Linked DNA regions of Homo sapiens. The protein of the gene in region 2 purifies or fractionates together with the protein of the main gene of each other region. This does not show direct contact. Each region holds a gene or a part of one and is shown on either strand. Other genes may lie near its edges.

Region 1 (7,038 bases), on a different chromosome or scaffold from region 2:
GTAAAACAGGAGGCTAAAAGCAGAGAAAGTTTTGTAAAATGTAGGGGAAGAAGAAAGTCAGAAAAGAGGGAGAAAAATTAGGCTGACTCCCAGGATTGTAAAACCTCACTTTAGGTGGCTCATGATACAACATCACAGGCATCTACACATAAACACAAAAACAACATAGTGTATACTTTGAAGAGAAGTCAGTATTTGGATTTTTATAATATCAGAGTAGATTTTGAGCTTAAGGCAATAATTATACAGCATCCTTTTCACATAGATATAATGTTTCTAGCCCATTGTCAAAAACTACGTATATTCTGGCCCATTGTTAAGAAATAGACACGGATTTTCACACCATCCATGCCAGTTGTCTGGTCCCTTGCTGTCAATAATTACCTACAACACCAAGATGGAAAACTGGAGTTGGGACTTAGTACAAATCTATGTGACAAAACAAACCAATTGGTTTATCCAGTGACCAAACTCAGATGTTATAAATCTGTACCTGTCCATCTGTTCCAATGGTGCCACCACAGTCAGCAAGGAGTTCTGACATGTCATAGTAGCTAACGAACTCCCATAAACAGGCCTCTAGGTTCAGGTTCCGGTAGAAGCGCAAGGTAGTGGAACCTCTGATGGACAAGCTGTACTGGTAAGGATATGTCTCTCCAATTATTTCTGGATTTTTGGTAGCATCAGTCAAGAAACCATAATGAGTCTTCACTTCAGTATAATCCAGGAGGTTGGAGCACTTGTGGTTTCCAACTCTTGTGCCATCAGGGCTGAGGGTGAGCTCAAAGTTGGAAAGCTCTCTAGTGGAGATCACGGGGAGCATGCCTATGATAAATCGAAATCATTGTTAACAGTCTTTCAAGTAGCCAAGAATTTTGAACACTTTAAAACTTCTTTATCTCTTAAGAAAACAAGTGTCATAAAATGCCATACAGCAGTGGTGTATGGCATACAGATCAAAGTGGTGTCCAGGCCCGGTGACGTGGCTCATGCCTGTAATCCCGGCACTTTGGGAGGTCTAGGTGGGTGGATCATCTGAGGTCAGGAGTTCAAGACCAGCCTGGCCAACATGATGAAACCCTGTCTCTACCAAAATTACAATAGCTGGGCATGGTGGCGGGTGCCTGTAATCCCAGCTACTTGGGAGGCTGAGGCAGGAGAATTGCTTGAACCCGGAAGGCAGAGGTTGCAGTGAGCTGAGATCGCACCACTGCACTCCAGCCTGGACATCAAAGGTGAAACTCCACCTCAAAAAAAACCCCTACAAAAAACAAAAAAATAAAAAAGTGGTATACTAAGAACCCTGGGGTTCCCCAGGAAAATTTCAAGAGATCCATGACTTAATCGCTATTTTCACAATGATAGTAAGTTATTATTTGACTTTGCCACCCATATTCTCTCACAAATGCAGTTTTTCAGAGACTACAAGATATGATAAATTGCAACAGATTGAATGCAGAAGCAGAGAATCCAGTTATCTTCTATTAAGTCAGACATTAATGATATCTTCAAGAATATAAAAGTGCCACTCATCATTTTTTTGTTTTATAACATAGTTTTTTAAAGGATGTATTTCATGTTAATATGTAATGTATTTCTTTTTGTAATTTTTAAATAAGTGAATAAATAACAATTCCTCAGTTTTAATTTAAAATCCAATAAATATTTATAGATATCACCCACATAAACAAAATCTCTTTGAGATCTTCAATAATTTCTAAGATGTCCTGGATCATAAATGTTGAAAACTGGCCATGCGTGGTGGCTCACATCTGTAATCCCAGCACTTTGGGAGGCCAAGGCAGGTGGATCACTTGAGGTCAGGAGTTTGAGACCAGCCTGACCAACATGGCGAAACCCCGTCTCTACTAAAAATGCAAAAATTAGCCAGGCATGGTGATGCACGCCTGTAATTCCAGCTACTTAGGAGGCTGAGGCATGAGAATCGCTTGAACCCGGGAGGTGGAGGTTGCAGTGAGCTGAGATCGCGCTACTGCACTCCAGCCTGGGTAACAGAGTGAGACTCTGCCTCAAAAAAAAAATTTTTATAAAGTTGAAAACTACCACCATTAAAAAGTACAGGCTAAGGACTGAAAATTTGTTCCATAAAGGGTCAAATAGTAAATATTTTAGCATTGTGGTCCCTGAGGTCTCTGTTGACTGTTCAATGCTGCCATCAGAGTGAAAGCCACTACTATGTGAAAGAAGAAACAGAACTGTGTGCAACAAAACTTTATCATGGGCAATGGATTTGAATTCCATACCATCTTTATGTCTCAAAAGTAGACTTCTTTTTTTTTCCCCAAACATTTAAAAATATAAAACCTATTCCTAGCTTGCAGACCATATGAAAACAGGCAGCAGACTGTATTTGGCCACAGGACATAGTGTGTTGAGCCCTGGCATAAGCAATACAGCAAAAGACTATGAACCAGTTCTTCTCTTTGAGCCTTTCACACCTCTTCCTCTCAGATTCACTCAGAGCAAAACTCCGGCCCCACAGAAGAAGTGGTCAGCCTCAACTACACTTCTGGCAGAACTGTGGCTATTGAACATTGAACAGTGCATTCAGAAAACGCAAAGCCAAGCCCTAGGAGTGGCAGAAGAGACCACTCTTTCTTTTAGGAAATAACTCTTATAGGTCTGTGTTTCCCTGATGGGTCCCTTCTCAGCCCTTTGCAGCTCAAGTCACACCTCCACATGGACCTACAGACTGGGTGGTTCAGGGACCAACATTATGCTATAAAGGAAGGAATGCAGATTCCTGACCACCTGCCCTTCCAATCCCCAGAAAAATCTCAGGTTGTAATAGGAAGACATAGCAGATGTTCTTGTTCTGGGGGAGGTAGATTCTACGTTGCAGCTCCTAATCGTATTTCCTCTCCCTTAGCTACATAAAATATAACTAACATATCAAGTAATTTTATTAACAATTTGCTATAAGTATAAAGTGATTTGAGTGGAAAATAACTTGAAAATGCCTTCCGCACATGGTAAAATATTCATAAAGTATGATAAAGTTATTGATGCACACATTCTGGTCATGGCTACCTAGCCAGAGAAAATAGACACAATATTTAATACCTGTTAGTTTCATTTTTTATTTTATTTAAATATCTTGGAAATGTCTTACAGTTACATGATAAATATTGAGAGAGACATAAAACTCCAGCTATAAAACTGCAACACATGTTGAAGGTAGGTACTAAGATATCAAATACTTTACTGTAACTTCAAGTTTACGATTGAAGATGCATTTGTACTCTTTCATAAAAGCTAGACTAGGTACCAAAGTTTTGTTTTATCGTGTCTGGATATGTATTACATCTACCTAATTTTAACGAATGCTTACACTGCCATAGTTATAAAAACAGGGTAGAACAAAGCTAAAACAGTTGAAAGAAGTGGAAGGACTTGAAGCTCAAGTTGCAAATTGAACGTTTATTTAAGCTTGGTTATTTAGAAGATGAAGGAAAATACAACAGGTAATGAGGAGTCCAAAACAATTCCATGGATTTGCTTACCCAAGTCACCTACCATCTATGTGTGGCATTGTGACAGTGAGCTTGATAAGGTTTGTGTAGTCTGCATCCTCAGGGCCTGTGTAGCGCAATTTAGCTGAGAACGGCTCTGCTCCAACAACCCCAGGTACACGGGGCTGACAAAGACCTTGAAAAAAAAAAAGACCATATTTATGCGAAAAGAAGGTAATCAATAATACCTAAAGAATGTTTTAGAAAATAGGAGCTATTATTTTTCTGTGTACTTTCAACTTCTCTGTGGAGTAGGGCATGGCTAAGAGTGTACATCACGTGATAAGGAATTAGAAGTCCACAGGGTGAGAAGTAATCACAGCAGACAGTTAGTGGCCACTTGACAATTTATGGATTGTTCAAACTTTGAGAAAAAATTTGTTACCATTCAATGTAACTTAATGTGTGCTGGTTATTCTAGGTCATGGTCATATTCACAAAATCATTTAAATATAAAGTATGAACAGATACAGTAAAAATGACTGAAAGTCAGTAGGATAAAAGTAAGTGTAGTTAAACCAAGTAAATGTTATTTTTACTCTAGAATAATATACTTATCATTAGTTATGTTTACATTACTTATAAGTGAATAAAACTAAAACTGTGCTCATTTTAGGAACAAAAACTAAAGTCTCCTTAAAAATCAGAGAGCAAAATATGTACAGTAGAGTTTTCTCTATAGATGTAATTTTTTACAGTATGTGTATTATACATTATAATCCATTTTATATTCATCTCTTTCTGTCTCATATCTCCCAGTGACCTTCAAGAATTTGGACATGAAACTCTTTCTCCAGTATTTCCTTTAGGAAAATAGTGGGGTTTCTATTTGAACATCATGAAAGGAACCAAGACGCTGAATTATAATTTCAGGAGAACTTGGAAAGATACAATTACTTATCTATTTGTATAAAACAGAGAAAATAGACAAATATGTATTAGAATAGCAAGGAAATCAGAGTCAGGCCCCAGCATAGAGGCTGTCTGATTTATTAAAAGAGAGAATCATTTTAAGGCATTATTTAAATATTTGATCCTGAATATATAGTAGTCACAGGTGGGACATATGACCTCTATGCAGTAAATTTACTTTTGAATGCGGTGTGCAAATAGATGATTTAGAAATAGAATCAAATATATACAACCGTTTTTAAGAAAAATCTCATTAAAAATTATTCTGCAGAGTGAAGGATTTATTTATACAGTGGATTTCCTGTCTTTCCAATGTTGTCCCCAGCCACATCCTATTCTCCATCCCCAATGTGTCTTTGCTCCAGCCTTAAATACAGTCTCTCTTGTAATACCAAGGTGTTAATTTGCACGTACCCCTCTATCTGGACTGCCCTTCCCCTCCCGTCCCCAGCAAAATCCTACTCACCCAACAACCAGCTGGTTTCCTTGCATGGCATGAGCTCTGTTCAGATCTGAGCCTTGCATACCATTTTGCCTTGTCTCCTGGTTTTTCCTCCTCTCCCTCTCAGAAGCTTCCCCATTTCTCTGCTTGCCATTCCCACAATATCCCGCATTCTTTCTTGCTTTTATGAGTTGTTGCTCATGCTTGTTTTCCTCTACTCTTTTCAGATTCAGCTTGAGCCTCCCCTCTTTGATAAGCCTTTCCTGACCCACTCAGGGTAAAACTAATCACTTCTACCTGTGCATTCCTGTGCCCTGTCTAGACTAAAATGTGTCTGCATCTTCAACTGGACCAAGAATTCCTCAAAAGCAGGGATCCTGTCTTCTTTATTTTATTGCCAGCACAAAGCATTGTGTCTGGCATATAATAGATACTTAAAGGTAGAATGAATAAATATTTTGTTTTCTAATACATAATTTTGTAAAAATAGATTTTAATTTTTCACTACTTACAAAATATATGGAATATGTGGGACATTGGAAGTATTAATAACCAGAAAGTAGACATTTGTAATATTGCACAGTATTCCAGTGATCTTCAGGGGAAAATGGCAATGACTGACCTTCTTCTCTGCTGATGGTTACAATAGGGCTCATGAGCTCCAGGCCTTCATCCCCATTGGTGTTCACAGCACGAGCTGCGCACTGTACCCGGGAGCCAGGCTGAAAGTATATGGAGTCCAGTGTGACCATCTTGGATGACGTAAAAAAGGTGTCGAAGTCCACTTCTCTCATAGGGCTGGTCACACCGTCAGGGCCCGCAGGTGCACTAATCAGCCACCGGTACCGCGTCAAAGTGTCATTGATGTTCTCACTTGCACAGATAGAGCCTGTTTTATCGTAGTCTGAATATTTGGGGTTGCAAGCCTACGGAAAACAAATGACTGTGTTAGGAACAGAGTGTAGAACAGGTGGAACGCATTCTTCTCCCGTTCTCTGCCATCGAGTTTTCACTGCTGCTTTCCCCAATTTCCACATGCTGTTTATACAGCTTCCGAATTTTGATCCCCAGGCATGATAACATTTATAAACATAATCTTGCATTTCAAACAGCTTATTGGATGTTTCTATTTCTAACTTAATATGTGTAAAATTGTTATTTATACCATAATCTCTTGAATCATCAGATTTGCCAGTTATCCTTATTCTCTCTTTTTTCCTCCCCCGCTTCCTGTCGCTCATCTTACCCCCCTTATCCAGTAAGTCATGAACTCGGCTGATTCTTCTTTAACAGTATTGCTTAAGTTGATGCCTTCCTTTCCATTTCCAGCAGCACTTCTCTGTCTAATTCAGCATCTTTTCTTCCAGTCCACTGACACACGACTGCCCTGTTAACCTGCCAGTTTAACCCCTCTGATCATTCTTCCATGTGAGAACTCTTCGCTACCCAACAAATGAAGTCCAAATTTCTTAATATGACATTTAAAACTCCCTATACTTTGACGCCAAATTATCTCTGCCTTGTTGACTCAATAAACATGTATTGTATAAGTGATTTTAGAAGTGCTGTTGTAATATAAACATAAGTAAGTCATAATTTTAGCTCACAAGGAGCTTAAACTTAGAGTCAAGAAAAGGCAAATTTTGAAAGTAGTGATAATTTGCTATTTCTTATGCTATTTTTTTCTAGCTGTAGCTCACGTTGCAGTCCCTTCTTCCTAGAATGACCTTCCCTTATCAGACTTGCATCCTAAAGAGTCAAAATTCCACCTGACCATCCCAAACCTCCCCTCATATATGGAGCTGCAGCTCTGACTTCTAATTTGTATCATTTTCATGATAGTGGTTATATCTTGCCTTATATTAGAGTTACCAATTCCTATATTCTTTTCTTCATCTCTAAATATCTTGAATGCAGACTTCATATCTTATTTATTTTTCTATTGGTGACAGACTGAGATAACACACTATGTACACATCAGTTAATGAACCTTTGTTCGGTGAAGAAAGAAAAATGGGAGCTTTATTTGATTAGTGTTATATATGCAAAGCTCAAGGCTTAAACCATGTAGTATTTTTCTACTTTCATTTCTTCATAACAAAGCCAATGCTATATTGATTATAATTATTTGAAATAATTATCTTACAATTT
Region 2 (2,888 bases):
TTTTGTGTTTTTAGTAGAGACAAAGTTTCACCATGTTGGCCAGGCTGGTCTTGAACTTCCTGACCTCAGGTTATCCACCCACCTCAGCCTCCCAAAGTGCTGGGATTACAGGTGTGAGCCACCGCAGCCGGACCATTTTTAGTATATTTTCAGTAAATACATTTAAACAATGTTAAGGCCACAGCACACATATCTCAGCCATTCATTGTTCTGTGCATTGATGTTTATCTCATAGATGCATTGAGTAGTGCCTTTTTAGCTTTTTCACATTACTTTGTCACCATATCCTTTGTGTTCTCTAAATACATTGCCCACTTCCAAAAATGTTCAGCATGAAAAAAAGGGCTTCAGTGTCGATTGAGATTGCTTTTGTTCATCTCAGGGATTTCAATAGTCAAGAATGAATTCAGTTAAAGGTATTTAGGGTTCAAAGAAGACAAACTGTACAAGCCCATTTCATTCCTTGTTGTATACCTTTCCATCTGCCCTCCCATTTTAACTATCTACTGTGGCCTTTTTATGGAAACAGAGCAAGATCAATGAAGGCTAATGGCAAGAATAAGAAAAAGAGTTGAGATTTAACCAATAGCGGAGCATAAAGGATCATGACAAAATCAAATTATAAAAGCATACTTGAAATAGGTGGAGCTTTTTCTTTTGAAAATATATATTCACAATTTTAATATTTTAATTTATTTTTTACTATTTAACCCTGTACTTGGCAATGCTCAGGCAGCTGATTGTGAAATATTCTTGTCCTTTACAGAACATGGTTGTTATTGTGCTGTTGACATGAATAGACCATGGAAACATTTTCATCATTATTATTCAGCCTGTGCTGTAGTTAATGTTAAGTTGCTGAAATAAAAAGTGAGCAAGTAATAGATTTTCTTGGCAAATCTAATGATTCAGCCCACAGGACTGTTGAAACTACTGCGGAAGTTTTTCTATCTGAAAGAAGGTGCTGGGCATTCAAATGTGTTCATGTATTGTATATCATATGAATTGTATATCAATTACTAATGGGAATTTCTACATATATGCTTACAAAAGCAATTTATTTAAGTAATGCTAGGGGTAGTGTACATACCAATTAGTTATTCAGCTACTATACAGAAAAAGGATGAACAAATTAATTTATTTCTAATTGAGCCAGTTAGACATAATGCATATAACGTGATATTTGGTTCATGAAAGAGTTGTTTTCATGTGGTTATTGTAGGGAGTATATATAATTGTGGAAGGGGTATGGGAAGAGTTGTGTATAGTTAGTTGTTATCTCTACAAGTTTGAAAGTTTTCCCATCAAACATTATCAATATACCAATGTTTTAAAAATTGAGTGAGGGTTATTATTTGTATTTGATGAAAGAAAATCCAAATAAAGCCCACCTAGAAATAGATATTTTATTATATATGTGCTATAGATATACCTATATAGTACAAATAGACATGTGTGATGCATATATACAATGTTATATATGTGTATATGTCTGTATACACACTGAGTCTGTAATATGTATACACTAAATTTGTGTTATGCTAACATCTTCAGGGTCTGCACTGTGAACTCCCCTGGAGATAAGTAAGTCCACTTTAGAATAAAGAAGTTCTTTTGAGACTTCAGTTACTAACGTGCTTTAAGAGGTATCTACTTTATAACTGAATTCTATGTCGTTCATACGTAGAGTTACAGTAAGGGTCTAGTATGTCCAAATCTTAATAATAAAGAAGAAAAGTAAAGGCTTCAAGCTAGCAATGTATTCGAATTACAGTTTTCAGATTGTGGCTCCAGGCCTTGTGTTTCTCATTTAAGTAGCACCTTTTAATAAAAACCGTTTCTTTGTGTAGGCAAAAGCACAAGTGTTTCAAATGTAAATAGCAGGAAAAAAAAAGAGTTTACAGAGATAGCATTGCTGCACAGAATAATTGCTACTGAGTATTTCTTATAGAATTTGTGGAACTGAAAGATGAGGTTTATTCTGTCAAGTTCAAGTTCATTCTGTTCAACACTGTTTTCTTATTGTTTGTGTATAGCAACCGGGTATTATTGTTTTATCATTTGTAAAATTGTAAAATAAATTAATCCCTTTTTTTCACTGTTTCTCTTATCTCATATATCCAAGCCCTTGGTTATACTTTGTATGTCAATGTTAGGTGATCATTTTTAACAAGCTTTGGCTTGTGCTTTGCTTTTCCACTCCCCTTAGCCCTAGTGGTTGGCAATTAGGCAAACCATTTATTTTTAAGTGTATACATGGGAATATGAACAATGTCAAAAACCCCATGAATATTAGGAAATCCTTAACGATATTTTGTGTAGCACATTCTGTTTGCGGTTGAGGGAATAAAGTATTTCACAAGTGACAGTCATTTATATCCATTTTATACTCCCACTGACTAATGTTAGTGGGTTGTTTTAGCTACAATGACTTCATACACACTGCACATTCTATGGCAGATTTTTGATTTAGTATTTTGACTGCTATTTGATCCACTTAATACTGTTTGTGATTTGCCTTCCAGAGATGATTCTGAAAAACTACACGCTTAAATCTTCTTCCATGGCTTTCTATAACTTGCAAGTCTGTTTTCAGACTCTGTATTGATTTCTGCAGAAATGTTTAACTGTAGCATTCTGCAATTTTGAAACATTTACTGGAGACCACCAATGAAGCACTGACAATAACTAATACATATAGATGTTATTTATATTTGCATAATTACCTTTTTTTCAAAGATTCATATACAACAGGTTATTCTTAGCTACTTTGGGGGGTATAATCAGATCTCATCATGTGGAACTCCATTTTTGATGTTATGGAAGAGCTTTCAGGATTGTAATACGAGTTTTGATGCCTGAAGCAATTTTTTAAAAGGCAGTATTTA
Region 3 (7,407 bases), on a different chromosome or scaffold from region 2:
CCCACCACACCCTTGATGGATGGAACTGCATAATTGTGTGATGGCGGAAAGCTAATTTGTACTTCTGTGCTGGCAATGAAGTGTCTGGAGCTTTGCAATTGACATTGAGAAGCAGAGGGGATCCCTCACTCCATCCCTGGTTCTCCCTCAAACTCAAATCGCAAATCCTCCACTCTATCTGCAAAGGCCCAGAGACAAAGGGGCTGTAACCTAACCCAAACCAAACAGCCACTCACAGAAAGTCATGGGAAGAAAAAAATCTTTCCAGTCTTGCAAAGACAAGCACCTGGTGGTTCTCTCCCTGTCTCTCGGTAAAGGTCATTGGTTCAGTTTCCCTTTCCACCTCCTGCAGGGTCTTGTCAGCACCTGTTTTCTTGGGCACAGATTGGGAGATGGTTTGGTGTTTCTCTTCCTCCCAAATTAAGGCACACTCAGACCAAAAAGCAAAGGGAAAGTGCCTCCCGAGGTTTTGCTGCTATCCATTTCTCAGTTTCGGAGGTCTCAAGACACAGAAAACTTAGACACCTAAAGAGGATAGAGAGGAAGAAATATTTCTTTTTTATGTATTTATTTTTTTCTTTGAGACCAACTCGCTCTGTTACCCAGGCTGGAATGCAGTGGCACGATCTCAGCTCACTGCAGCCTCTGCCTCCTGGGTTCAAGCGATTCTCGTGCCTCAGTCGCCGGAGTAGCTGGGATTACAGGCGCCCACCACCACACCCGGCTAATTTTTGTATTTTAGTAGAGACGGGTTTTGCCATGTTGGCCAGGCTGGTCTCGAACTACTGACCTCAGGTGATCCACCCGCCTCGGCATCCCAAAGTGTTGGGATTACAGGTGTGAGCCACCGCGCCCAGCCAAAAAAATGTTTCTGAAAGAATATGTGTACATGCACGCGTATACATGTGGCAGGGGGTGAGAGGGAGAGACTTGTATAATCAGAGATTTAGTATGTGATACAATGGGAAAGAATAAACAGAATTAAAGGATAACAGCCACCATTTATTGGATCTGTACTATATGCCAAACATGTTGCGAAATATTTTATGCACAATGTTTCATTTAATTTTCAAAGCAACCCAGTGAGGGAGAAACGTATGCGCCCATTTTACAGTTGAAGAAACAGGCTCACTGACGCACAGCTCATGACTGGGGCCGAGCTCCAGGACTGAGATCCTGATGCCCATTTTCTGAACCACTACTGGCTACTGCTTTCCAAGGGCTAGAGATGAGAAAAAAAAGGAAATTGGTTTATGGTGTGGCAGAGGTCTTGCGATGAGACATGAAGAACTCTCTGACAATGAGGGCTGTTTGGTTGTAGTCGGAGTAATTAGGCTTGTTAGAGCTCTTCCTCTGACGGCCTTTACATTTAAGATGAATGGATGCTTCTATGCCCGGATGGTTTGAGGGAAACGCTGTCTGTTCCCAGCACGGGGCTGGCCTGTTTGAACTAGCTGACGGCTTCACTGGGGATACAGGATTGCCACACGCGAAACCGTTAGATAACAGGAGAAGATAGCGCAGGATGTGAGCCCCGAGTGGGACTGGCAGAAAGTGAGGGCTACCGACAGGCAGAGGCTACTGTGGTTCAAAGCAAGGGCTTTGTGGTCAGGCGGGCAGACTTGTGTTTGAGTCCCGGCTGGCTCTACTGCTTTTGTGACCTTGGGTATGTTGCCTAACCTCTCTAAGCTTTGGTTTCCTAGTCAGTAAAAAGAGCCTAAGAATAGAACCTACTTTGGAGGGATGCCATGAAAATTAAATAAGATGATCCATGTAAAATGCTTGGCACAGAACCTGGACATAATCAAAATACAATGGGGGAGGAGCTGCTATAATAATGACTATTGTTGGAGTCCAGAGGCCGGAGACAGTGGCACAGAACAGAGGGCTAGGTCGGTGGGGAGTCGAGAAAGTCTTCCTGGGAAACCTGAGTTTTGTCCTGGAGCTTGAAGAGGTGGTCAGGTGAAATCAATAGCAAGGCATAGAGATGTAGGTAGGCAGGGCTTATGTAATGGAGTGAGATTTCAAATGCCCTATCACTTTCAAAGAAAAATCTGGTTTGATCTGTGGTTGAAGTAGAGAAGGAAGTTGACTATGGGGAAGAGGTGGGAAAGAGATGAGGTCTTCCATCCTTGTTTCCAAACCCAAAATGTGAACAGAGACAAACCTCAGGGACCTAAACAAGAAATCTGACATCCAGGGCTTCTTTGCCCACTTCTGGGCTGTTGTGGGAGGAGAAGGGGTAAGAGCCTGGGAAATGGCTGAGGGCAGAGCTGGTGGCGGATGGGGACAGGACCTGAAACAAGGGAAGTTAGGAAATGTGGGCGAGGCCCTTAATGACTGTGTGGGCTGACTCATGTGGGAGACCTAGCTTCAAGGCCGCATGGAGATCCAGCATCCTGTCAGGCGGGAGGCCAATTTCAAGACCCTGGGCATCTCTAGTCTAAACGGTTGCCAGCTAAGAGTGGGAGTCCTTAGGGGAGCAATCCTTGTGCTAATCCAATTATTCCCTAACAGCCTGCCTTATCTCCCGGATGTGAAGATGAACTCCTTAGGAGCCAGGTTCTCCAGGAAGGATGCTGCTTGTTTCAGATGCTCTATGTTTTTGTTTTGTTTTGTTTTGTTTTGTTTTGTAGAGACGGAGTCTTCCTCTGTCACCCAGGCTGGAGTGCAGTGGCGCAATTTTGGCTCGCTGCAACTTCTGCCTCCTGGGTTCAAGCAATTCTCCTACCCCAGCCTCCCGAGTAGCTGGGATTACAGGCGCACGCCGCCACACCCAGCTAATTTCTTTTGTATTTTAGTAGAGACGGGATTTCACCTTGTTGCCCAGGTTGGTCTCGAACTCCTGAGCTCAGGCAATCCGCCCGCCTCGGCCTCCCAAAGTGCTAGGATTACAGGCATGAGCCACCGCGTCTGGCCCAGACGCTCTATGCTTAAACATCTGCCAAATACCTGCTGTCAACCACTTATGTCGAGCATCATGTGGGCCTTGTCAAAAATGCTAATCCTCAGTTCTTTTCCCTAGAATCTGATTCCATGGGTTTAGGGATTCGGGAATCTATTTTCTAACAAGCATCCAGGTGATTCTTCAGGAAAGGCAAATTTGGAAAAGGCTGACTTGGTAGTCTCTTAAATTCCCTTCAGTCCTAAATCTAGGCAGCAGAGAGCGGGTAGCGGGAAGGGCCCCTGGATGATAGCAAGAGGCCGATTCTAGCCGGACCCTGCAGTTCACATGGCCCTGTGCTGGGGAAGCCCTAGAAGGGAAGGAGGCTGCAGAGAAGGGAGTTTTCACCCATCAGTAATCAAGGTCCCAACAGAAGTGAAAATGGAAGTCAGGGAACAATTGGTTTTGAGCATCTTCGTGGGGCTTTTTCCCTTGCCTGGGACTGGCAGGACAGTGTAGGTCTGAGCAGCTTCCACGATACACACGGGGACACTTAAGCCCAAAGAATTTTTAAAACGTGCCTAAATTCCACAACTAATCAGAGGAGGCAGCAATCCAGATCTCCTGGTCTTCACCCTTCTTATTGTTGGGGTGCACCGCAGGGCACGCATGTTTCCTTGTGGCTTGTGGGAAAGCCACTGTCGTGGAGCGCCAGCGTCCCGAGTCCCTGGAAATTCTCCCAAGTGACCTGGAATCCAACATTTCCCTGGATTTTCATAGTCTATAATAGAGAGAAAGAACCGGGTCTGCGGTGGTGGGCAGGACTGAGGAAAGGCCGTGAATGCGGGAAGCACGGGAGGCAGGACTGAAAAGGAAAGAGGCACAGGGGCTCACAAAACCTGAGGGCCGCGTCCCAGTGGGTGACCTGACCCATCAAGGTCTAACACCTGGCCGTGGCAAAGCTGGGCGAGAACCCCCGATCCACCCTCCCAGTGTGGGGCAGGGAAAAGGCAGAGTGCAAAGCGAGGTCTGATTTTGCAGAAGCTTTTTAGAAATTCGCTGTCAGAGAAACTGAAAGACCAAACAAAACCCCTAAAAATCCAAGCCCGATTATTTCATCCACGTGGCACAAAAGCAAGCCAAAAAAAAAAAAGCGGGGGGGGGGGGTGGCGGTGCAGGGCGGGGGAAGAGTCACCCGTCCTGCCCCTGCTGGAAGGAAGGGATTTGCCCCGGGAGAGCAAACTTCTGACTCCGCCTGGGTCGCTGACTCCGCGCGGCCGGGCGGGAGGGAGGTCGAGGAGGCCGCTCGCACAAAGCCGCGGAGCCGCTGCCCCCTCTCCCCGCCCCCTGCCCGGCCAACGCCGAAGTGCGGAGAGCAGCCGCGGGCCCTTTAAGGGCCGCGAGGTGCGCGGTCTCTTTAAGGCGGGTCCTGGTGGTTTCTGTTTTCTGAAGGAAGTGACGGGGGGTGGGATTGAATGAAAAGTGCAAAACACAGGCTCGCAGCGCTGGAGCCCGGGGCCGCGGAGCCGGGCCGGGGCAGCGCCGTCTCCGCCTCGGGGCCGCCGGGGGCGCCCTGCTGAGCGCTACCCACGTGCGTCCGCGCCACCTCGCGGGCGACCCCGCGGCCAAGGCCCCCGGCGGAGCGGCTCCCGGGCGCCCCGAACTAGCCCCCAACTTTGGGCGAAGTTTGCCTGCGCCTCTCCCCGCCCCCACGCGGCGCGCCGGGGCCGCGGACGGCAGCGGCCCCCGGGGATGCGCCTTCCCGGGGTACCCCTGGCGCGCCCTGCGCTGCTGCTGCTGCTGCCGCTGCTCGCGCCGCTGCTGGGAACGGGTGCGCCGGCCGAGCTGCGGGTCCGCGTGCGGCTGCCGGACGGCCAGGTGACCGAGGAGAGCCTGCAGGCGGACAGCGACGCGGACAGCATCAGCCTCGAGCTGCGCAAGCCCGACGGCACCCTCGTCTCCTTCACCGCCGACTTCAAGAAGGTGAGGCGCCCTCACTCGCCGGGGTGGCACCTTCAAGCCTGAGCCCCCCGGGATCCCAGGCGCTCTCTTGCCTGCAGACGGAAAGACGGGCCCAGGAGGGAGACGCAGCTGGCCCAAGGTCACGCCGGGCTCTTCTCTACACCTCTTTGCCCACTCCCCAGGGCCCACCCCTTCATTCTCTCCAAAGAACCCCTCTGCTTCCCTTTCTCACTCCCTCCTCCAGCGCTCCCAGAGCCCCCCAGGTGCTAACCCTCCTCCAGAACTCCTACTAACGACTGGACTCCCTTCTTGGAGTCATTCCCCTGTGCTCTAGTGGGAAAGTCCTAGGCGAAGTGTTCTCGCTGTGGGCTCTCACTGTGGGTTCTCCCTGTGTGATCTAGAGCAAGCAAGCCTCTTTCCTCCTATGGGCCTGGCTTCTCACCCCTGTACAGGGCACTGAGGGGTCTGCGAGGCCTCCCAGCCCTGACATTTTGGAGTCCCTCTGTCACCTCTCCCTCTGTTTCACTTTTCTGGGGAGAGCTGGTTGCCCCTGGTCCCTCTCAAGCCGGGAGAAGCCCTGTCTCCTCTTTGGTCTGGAAGGCTGGGGCGCTTGCAGCAGGAGGATCCTGGAGAGAGACCCCAGCTGAGGCCCCCTCCCTCTGGGAGAAGTGCTGCCCTTCACTCTGCCTGGCAGAGAAGCGAGCCAACCCCCCTATTTTGGCCCAGATTAGGGTTAGGGAGTTAGAGACCAGCCCGGTGGGTGGGTGGGTGGGTGGGTGTGGGTGTGTGGGTGTGTGTCCCAGATTACGGTTTGGGAGTTAGAGACCAGCCCGCTCTTGGTGTGTGTGTGTCTGTGTTGGAGGGAATAAGAAGGGCCTTGCACCCAGGGGGCTGGGGGATTATCAGGAAATGGGCCTGGATGGTGAGTGACTAACAGTGACCCAGCAGCAGGAAAGCTGGAGGAAAAGAGGGTGGGTAAGTCTTAGGTATTCAAAAGGAGCGTTCTGTCTCCTTCCCCCAGCTAAAGAGAGGCCCTGTGAGGCTCTGTCCCTGGGGGAGTGCAGGGGTGAAGCCGATTAGATAGCTGGGGGAGCCCGGGGCCCCGGGGACCCTTGCTGAAGCTGCCTGTCTTTCCTCCCTCGTAGAGACAGGGCGCTTTAGAGGAGAGGTGGCGGAGTTTGGGAAGTCAGTTAGGGACCCAGCCAGATTGCCATAGTTAGCAGGGGTGAGGGGTTAGGCTTGACCGCTAGAGGTGGGTGGGGTTGGGGGGTGAGGCTTGACCGCTGATTGCCCCAGGGCCACGGAGTTGGCACTGACATTGGACATAAGCAGGCAGATGGGGGGTGGGGTAGTGAGCGTTCACAAATGGGAAGACTTTGTAGCCCATCCTTACTCCGCAGGCCTAAGCTAGGCACCCTGCCTCCCCACCTAAACCCTAGGAGAATTTTATCAAGTGTGTTCTGTTCCTGAAAAATCTATGTTAGTGGCTGGATCCATCAGGAATCGGGGATCTAATCTTCTGTCCAAGCCCTTTGTCCTTGAAAGTTAGCCTTAGGCCAGGCTGTGAGGCTCCCAACCCCCTGCCCACTGGATGTCATCTTGTGGCTGCACTAGAATCCTGCAGAGAGACTTCCCTGGCTGTGGCCAGGACAGTGAAAGGCAATGGGTAGGGCTGAGCTTTTATAGCCTTTAGCTACATCTGGAAGGTTTTTATTGCTGTGATCTGAAGGGAGAGGCTAAGAAGTACCCAGGTAGCTGTGATGTGCTGGCAGTAGTGGCTGATGGCGGGGGTGGGGTGCTGGGGATTGGAGTGAGGGTATGCTGGTCATCTGACTGCCCAGTTAGAAAATGCATCTGGAGATTGTGAGCACCTCATTTGAATCTCTACAGTGGTTCAGACCTCCACCCAGGTTTCTAAAGTCTGATTTTCAGGTTAGCCTCTGACCCAGAAGCTACCATTTCATACCCACCTCTGGCATCTCCAATTTCATCAGCAAGGGAGGGAATTGGGAGTGGAAGACACCGAAAGGAAACCAGCTTTCCCAAGTCCCTTTAACTCCAGGTTTCTCCATTGGCCTAGGACGGGGTGGAGTTGGAGAGTGCAGTGTGGGGGAGAATAGCCTTACCCTCACCCAGGCCACTCACTCACTGCCTGCACTGGCCACAGCAGCTTCTATGTCCAGATCCTTCTAGGGTGGGTCACCTCTCAGTTCTCAAGGCCCCATGCCTCATAGTGTTTGTCAGATTTCCATAAGAAAGTTTGGTCTAGAAGGAATGATTTTTCCTATAAGAAAAAGACTTCGGCTCGGTGTGGTGGCTCACATCTGTAATCCCAGGATTTGGGGAGGCTGAGGCAGGCTTATCGCTTGAAACCAGGAATATGAAATCTTCAGGCCAAACGAGACCCCTGTCTCTACAAAAAATTTAAAAATTAGCGGAGCACGCTGGTGTGTGCCTTGTAGTCCCAGCTATTCAAGGAGGCTGAGGCAGGAAAACCACTTGAGCCCAGGAGCTGAGGCTGCACTGAGCTGCAATTGTACTACTGCACTCCAGCCTGGGAA
Region 4 (7,038 bases), on a different chromosome or scaffold from region 2:
TTTGCAGGTCATTTCCCTGGGGAATGCAGATACAGGAGACTTCTGGGGCAGAGACTGACACCCTGGAGCCACTGTTTCTCTTCCTTTCAAATCACTGCATTTTATTCTAAATGGCTTCACCCTCACAGACCTGCAGGCATCCTGGGAAGCTAATCCACCACTCCTAAAGCAGACTGAGACCCTGCTGTGGTGGAGGTAACTGAACCCAGGCCTTCGAGGTAGTCTCTCTGGGAAAAATCCCCCTTCCGGATGCATGTCTCTAAGAGAAGTTCCCTAGCCTCTCTGAGCCTCCGATTCCATATCTGTAACATAGGATCTATTCTAACCTCACACGGACTAAATTAAAGCACTTGAGAGCCTCTGGGACATAACTGGCACTCAAAAGGCCATTTAAAAAGGTAAAAAGATGCAATTGTGCACTAAGTCTAGAAGATCCTCTCTTTAAATACGTGATGATTCAGAAACATCAGGCTGGCAGAGTGGGGCCTTGGCATTTGCCTCTGCATTCCTAGTGTTGGACAGGGCAGGGCACGCTGGAAAAATGCTTTCAGGACACACAGGAAGGGACCTTCCTCAAACTGACAGTTCAAGCCAGGTAATGAACAGAATCTGAAACAGTTACTCTGAGATGAGCACAGGCCACCTCAGTGGTTTATTATTAACCGGCTAGGGTATTAAGTGGATTCTATCAGCATGAAAGAGTTATCGATTTACACCTTGCCTCATTCCTGAAAGGATTAGAAATAGCTTATGAGAAAATTTAAAATACATAGAGAACCATAAATAGATAAATGTCTGGACAGACCTAAAGATTGCAACAAATTGGAATGCATGTGCAGAACCAAGGTCCTCTCTCAATTGTTCTTAAAGCAGACATGAAAGCTTGCCTTTGAGTTTCCTGTTGGTCAAAGTGGAAATGAACACACATGGTCTTAGAAACAAAATGTACAGTTCTCATGTGAAAATGTCATATTAATTGATTCCCTGGGGATAGCAAGTCTTTCTTTGACTGGCAGTCAGTTTGAAAGAAATTTCTCACGTGGATTTTCTTAATGGGGTCACCTGGCGACTTAGGGAACAGCGATCACAAAGACATCCCTTTAGAATACACCAGAAGATATTGCTGGGCTCTTTTTATGACTTACACCATGTGTGGGCAAAGCACTCAAGTATAGCTTGAAAGAAAAGGGAGCTCGGATGGGCAAGATACATTTGTATAAATCACAGCTTTCTGTGGAGCTGTCTTCATCTGGGAATAAAACCAGGAATGTTCTTCCAAAAATCTTCCATAGAAGTTATTTCCCTCAACCAAGTTTTTGATAAAAATTGGGTGATAGAAAATTTGAGGTTGAGATGACATTGTCTGGCAAGGACCTGGAATGCAGGCTTGCTGATTGAGACTGGACCAGTACAGTTAGAGATGAGCAGAACAGAAACAGTTACTGTCAATGCAGTCTTCTGCAGGAATGCTCATTGCATGGGGGCATATTTCCTTCCAACAGCATTCATCAGGCCTGGGAGCAGAAAACAGCTACACCAGTTCTGAGCTCAACAGTGGACAATAAGAGGGGTGAAAACTAGCCACTGAGTCTAGCTTCTCTGGGTGGATCCTGGCTCTACCGCCCAGAGCCTTTGGCAGGGCCATTCACCTCTCTCAGTCTTGCTCTCCTCCTCTTGTAAAACAGGGATGAGACATGAGCGGTCAACAGGTTGCGATGATGATCAAATGAGCCAATGCGTGTAAAAGACCCTTGTACATAGCAGACTGTCAGCAAATGTTTAACAACACAAAATTGTGGCAGGGGCCGAGCAGAGTAGGTATCAGGTAACTTCAGGAAAGTTAGGTGGTTTTATCCCGTTTTAAGTATGAGTATACATTTTTTCTTCTGGCAAGGAAAAATGTGATCTTAAGTAATAATCCCTGACTTTCAATTAAATTTTTCATACCCTTTCTCCCTAATATAATATAAAACAACATGAGCTTCTAATCTCTTGCACTCCAAAAACTGTACCCTAGGCCACCTTCTGGTGCCTTCTGTTTTATAACGGGCAGGACTTCGCAGGGAACATAAAGACACCCACCGTATCATCAATATAGACAGAAATAGGCCAGGCGCAGTGGCTCATGCCTGTAATCCCAGCACTTTGGGAGGCCGAGGCGGGTAGATCACGAGGTCAGGAGTTCAAGACCAGCCTGGCCAACATGATGAAACCCTGTCCCTAGTAAAAAATACAAAAATCAGCCAGGTGCAGTGGCAGGTGCCTGTTATCCCACCTACTTGGGAGGCTGAGGCAGGAGAATCACTTGAACCCAGGGGCCAGAGGTTTCATTGAGCCGAGATCACGCCATTGCCCTCCAGCCTGGGTGACAGAGTGAGACTCCGTCTCAAAAACAAAAACAAACACAGACAGAAATAAAAACTAGTGGGGACAGCTTTTGGAGGAGTCCTGAACCTTAAAAGCCGAGACCACACAAGGGAGTCATTCATGAGTCTAGGAAGATGGCAGCAAAGGCAGGAAAGAACTTGGGACCTTTGAAATGCAGTATGAAGTCACTTTTGTCTGAGTCTTACAGAATAACACTCAAATATCATCAAGGTATACACTGTCCTGTGGGGTCCGATCTTGCCTCTCAGCCCCTCCACCCCTACTGCCGGGGGCTGCTGGCTCACTTCCCACTTCTAGTGACTTTGAACCTTCTCTGTGTTCATGAACTTTGCATATGGGTGTCCATTCCCCAACCTAGCCATCTTCTACTCGCCTTCAAAAACAAGTGAAAATGCTGCCCTCTGAAAAGCATTTCCCCGCTTTCAATGCAGTTTCTGCCTGCATGGTAGAATAATGTTCCTATTCCAATGATTTTGTCTGTCTTCACTAGACTCCAGGCTTTTGGCAGTGGGAACCAAATCTTCATCACTCCGGATCCCCAACCTGGAGCACAGTGGTTGGCGCCCAGCAGACGTCTCACAGTGATGTGTGAAAATGGGTCACTTTGAGGCTGTGAATGGATTCTGAGATCTTCAGAGCCTGTGGCAGTGACTGAAGATCAGACTGCAGTTCCTTTCGACCCTGCCCACCCCTGTCATCCCCACGATGGGGCTCAAGTTGGAGAATAAGCATTGGACCAGTAGGCGGTCCCTAGCCTGGAGGTCAAAGCGGAGAGACCCACAGGTAAAGGTTTGCTTTACCTGATTGGCGCTGTGGAGTTCTCCAGCTTCCACCAGGCCTTGGGGGGATTTAGGTAGCGGCACCACAGCTCCCAGTCAAAGCCCTGGGCAGCCAGCGGGTACTCTTCTATCTCAAAGTTGTCATATTTGATGTTATCAAAGGATGGCGAGATGATCCGCTTCCGGTTCTCCTTGATGCGGGTGAGTACAGGTTCAGCCCTGGGCAGAGAGGAGACAGCCAGAGAGGGTAACCATTTCCAAGGTGGAAAAATCCAGAGTAGCATCTCCTGAAGGTCCTTCCCCAGCAGAAAGAGGAAGGAAGGCCTGCCCATCTCCTCTGATGGAGAGGTGCACTGCCTTCTGGGAAGGAGCTCCTATTCAACTTCCCGCTCCCTGAGGATTGCCGGAATGGCAAGAGGCTGCACCACTCCATTGGCATATCCAGAGCTGAGCTGAGAGATTCTTATTCCAGCCAACCTTGTGCCTGCTCGCTTTCCCTTTCTCCATTAGAAAAAAAAAAAATCAAGACTCAAAAAAGAAGAAAAAGAAGAAAGAAACAGATCTGAGGCTCCAGAAAAAGCTTTCACCTTGGGCTTTGATTTTGCTAAAATTCTATGTGTCAACCTGGAGGAAAAGACAGATGAGGATGGCAGAGACTAGGAGCTGAGAACAAACCTACATCCACCAGCCATGCGATGTTGCCCTGGAATGCCAGCTGTGCCACATCCACCCCCCAAAGCGTTTCCCAACCACCCAAGGAGGGGTGGGGCATTTGGGCTTTCCCAGGGAGCTGGGAGACCCTTGAAGGCACCAGGCGAGTAAAGTGTTTGCAGGCAGGAATAAGCTTCTCATTAATAATACATTTGGTGCATAATTGTTTATTCAAATCAGCTTGAAATAGTAAGTGTCCCTCTCCTATCCTGGCCATAAATCCAAAGAAAATGCTGTTTAAATAGTCACAAGTGGCAAGCAGGGACTTCAACTATAAAAAATGGCTGTGTTGCAGCCTTCATTTGGGCCTGTTATGGCAGCATCCAGGCCAGGCTGTGTGCACGCCCTGCTGCTCCTTCCTGCTGAAGTGCCCTTGTCTCCCACTCCCCGGGGGCACAGGTTGGCACTGTGGAGTCTGGGGAGGAGAGCAGACCCCAGTGACAACAGGCATATTGATAAAAGGGTGGCCACCTACTTGCCCCAGCTACTTATGGTCATTGCCAGAGCCTGTGTCTCCCAGGCCCAGGCAAAGTTACACACAGCAGGTGGCCCTGTGCCCTCCAGCCCTGCAGGGAGGTCTGCATCCGCCACTCTATTCCTGGCTGGCTGCAGCCACTTGGGCCTTCTGTCTGGTCCCTTTCCCCCCAGCATCTGAGCAGCTCTGACCAGAGAAAGAAAGATGTTCTTAGACAGTTTCACCATAGGGAGAATCTGAGATTACGTGCTACCTCCAATCTGGCAGTGGGAAAGCCCAGGGCACCTGTGACAACATGGGGCAAGCTTCCCCCACCTTTGCCCACTTGCTGTTGGCCCTGGCTGTGAGGCTGGGCTTCTGCCTCACGTCTGGCCCAGCTCTCCTTTCCTAGGTGTGGGAACCCTGTCCTTAGCGGGACACTCTCTGCTTTGCCCTTGGCATGTACCCTTCTCCCTGATGACCCTGCCAGCCAGAGTCACATGTGATGTCACCATGCATATTAGGCACCGTGTGCTGACCTGTTGACCCCTGGCTACCCCCTCCCCTCTACCACACCTCGAACCCTAAAGGTCCAGCCTTGTTGCCTGGCTCACTCACACACCTACATCTCACCTATTCCCAGAATTACCTCTTTTCCCTTAGGCTATGACCAAGATCCTAGCATGCTTTGCACTATTGGAGCTGAAGCCCCAGATCCCACTGGGACTCCTCCTCCTCTCCCAAGGGGCACTTACCAGCCCACATTGAACTCCACGTGGGCATCAAAGAGTGCCACCACAGGGGCAGTGGCCGCCCTCCAGCCACTGACCCTGGAGCGGATGAGGCCTTCCTGCTTGCTGTGACGCACGACTTTGATGAAGCCTGGCTTCTGGCTGTTCACCTTGTCCACATATTCGGTCAGCTTCTCCTTCAGTTCCTCTGTCAGGGAGAAAATGCAGCCTTAGCATGGGAGGGAGGTCAGGAGGCAGAGGGGGCAATCACAACAGTCACTCTTTTAGTGATGACCCCCAGAGAAAGGCTGGGGGACCCATTCCCCTCCCTGGGTCTTCTTCAGTGGTCCCCACAGTGGCCAGCACAGGTCAGTTTTGAAGGGAAAAATAGAGGGGAATATTTCCTGTATTTTCAGTATTTTCTGAGGTCCAGCAATGCACAGGGTCATATACACCACAAACAAGGTCTATTTAATCTTCACAACAAGCCAATAGGAAAATGGTAGCTCAAAAGATTTTATCAAGTTCTCCAGCATCATGCAGCTTGTGAGTGGCACAGTCCACTTTCAAACCAGGCCTAGTGACCTGAAAAGCCATCATCAGCACGGCTACCTCCTTCCTATTGGTCTCCATCTCCATCGGTGCTCCTATAACCCCCAGGGGAAGATCCCTCTGCCAAGACCCCAGCCCAGGATCCGCTCTCTGCCTGGATCTCCATCTTTCCAGGAAGTGGATGGCCAGGAGCTGTGCCCATGTGAGTAGCTGGTGTTGGTTTGCTGCCTGTGGTCCTGGACCTGGCTAAGCATTTGATGCCTCTGCTTCTTCATAACTGTAAATGGGGCCTGCAGCAACAGAAACAGGCCTCAGCAGCAGCCCCCTGAACCCTCAGCAAGAGAGGGCACAGCCACTGCATTCATTACCTTTTTCATAGCAGCTAAGGCAAGAGCCCATGACAGCCCTCACAGTTGGTTGGACAGGATTCTAAAGTTCCTTTTGAACCAAGCATCCATCCCAAGGTGTGAATTCCCTCTGTCTGCCCTGATGAGTGATCATGCAGCCCCTGCAGTAAAAGGGAAATCCATGCAATCCATTCCTTAGAGGGCCTCTTCAACTATTAGATGTTCTTCCTTCTTCTGACCTCCAAATGCCAGGGTCCCTCAATCTTACATTCATGAGTCCAATGGGACCTATTTTGGAGCCATAGAAGACAGATCAAGTCCCACTTTCCACATAACAACTGAAGCCCATTCTTAAGTCCTTGCTAAGGACTTCTCTAGGTCAAATATCTTCAGTTCTTCCTTGTGTTTCCGCATATTTCATGATTTCAAATTCTCTAATCATGTTGAACTTCCCTCTAATTAAGTTAGTTTTTCTTGAACCCTTTCATATTATGCAGAAGTTGACCTAATACTTCTAAAGTAAACTGGGCTATACAGAATAGAAGAAATAAATCACCTCCCTTAATCTAGAATCTATGCTCCTATTAATATAATCTAAAGTCACAACAACTTTGATTGCTTTTGTCTCAAATTAAGCTTACTGCTAACATATACTTACAAATTATTTTTACATGGTGCTACTAAGTCAGGCCTCCTCCATCCCATCTCTGTGGATGCGGGTGCATGTGCAGGTGCTTGTGTGTGTGTGCACACATGGGTGCCTGCTCTGAGTCAAAACAAAGAATCTTATGTTTACTTTTATTTAATCAGCCTTTCTAAAGATTTCCACTATTTCTTTGGAGGTCAAAGTGTTTTTGTCCCCTGATTTCATTACCCAATGTCTTTCTTATCCAGCCCTTCTAGGTTTCCAGCTTCTGCAAAAGTGATGAGCATATGGCCTTTCTTGTCATTCAAGTGATCCTTTTAAACAGTGTGACCCCTGTCCTAAGCTAGGGCTGGTGGGGGCTGTCAGTGTCCTCATTCCAGCCTGGAGAAAACTCGACTGACTTCTGGGCTGCCACTGACATGCTGTATAT

What was found.
Region 1: the proteins of ST8SIA4 (region 2) and FREM2 purify together in Homo sapiens (affinity purification with mass spectrometry; 2 studies listed by BioGRID and IntAct, with this or other methods). This does not show direct contact.
Region 3: the proteins of ST8SIA4 (region 2) and OAF purify together in Homo sapiens (affinity purification with mass spectrometry; 2 studies listed by BioGRID and IntAct, with this or other methods). This does not show direct contact.
Region 4: the proteins of ST8SIA4 (region 2) and GALNT18 purify together in Homo sapiens (affinity purification with mass spectrometry; 2 studies listed by BioGRID and IntAct, with this or other methods). This does not show direct contact.

The regions. Positions count from the first base shown.
Region 1 is NC_000013.11:38,858,062-38,865,099, reverse strand, and holds part of FREM2 (FRAS1-related extracellular matrix protein 2 precursor), read right to left. Parts: intron 5,814-7,038; coding exon 5,510-5,813; intron 3,670-5,509; coding exon 3,538-3,669; intron 826-3,537; coding exon 494-825; intron 1-493. UniProt on the Homo sapiens protein: Extracellular matrix protein required for maintenance of the integrity of the skin epithelium and for maintenance of renal epithelia. Required for epidermal adhesion. Involved in the development of eyelids and the anterior segment of the eyeballs.
Region 2 is NC_000005.10:100,806,413-100,809,300, reverse strand, and holds the end of ST8SIA4 (CMP-N-acetylneuraminate-poly-alpha-2,8-sialyltransferase isoform a precursor), read left to right. Parts: 3' UTR 1-2,368; downstream 2,369-2,888. UniProt on the Homo sapiens protein: Catalyzes the transfer of a sialic acid from a CMP-linked sialic acid donor onto a terminal alpha-2,3-, alpha-2,6-, or alpha-2,8-linked sialic acid of an N-linked glycan protein acceptor through alpha-2,8-linkages.
Region 3 is NC_000011.10:120,206,644-120,214,050, forward strand, and holds the start of OAF (out at first protein homolog precursor), read left to right. Parts: upstream 1-4,388; 5' UTR 4,389-4,636; coding exon 4,637-4,867; intron 4,868-7,407.
Region 4 is NC_000011.10:11,373,994-11,381,031, forward strand, and holds part of GALNT18 (polypeptide N-acetylgalactosaminyltransferase 18), read right to left. Parts: intron 5,272-7,038; coding exon 5,088-5,271; intron 3,387-5,087; coding exon 3,189-3,386; intron 1-3,188. UniProt on the Homo sapiens protein: Catalyzes the initial reaction in O-linked oligosaccharide biosynthesis, the transfer of an N-acetyl-D-galactosamine (GalNAc) residue from UDP-GalNAc to a serine or threonine residue on the protein receptor.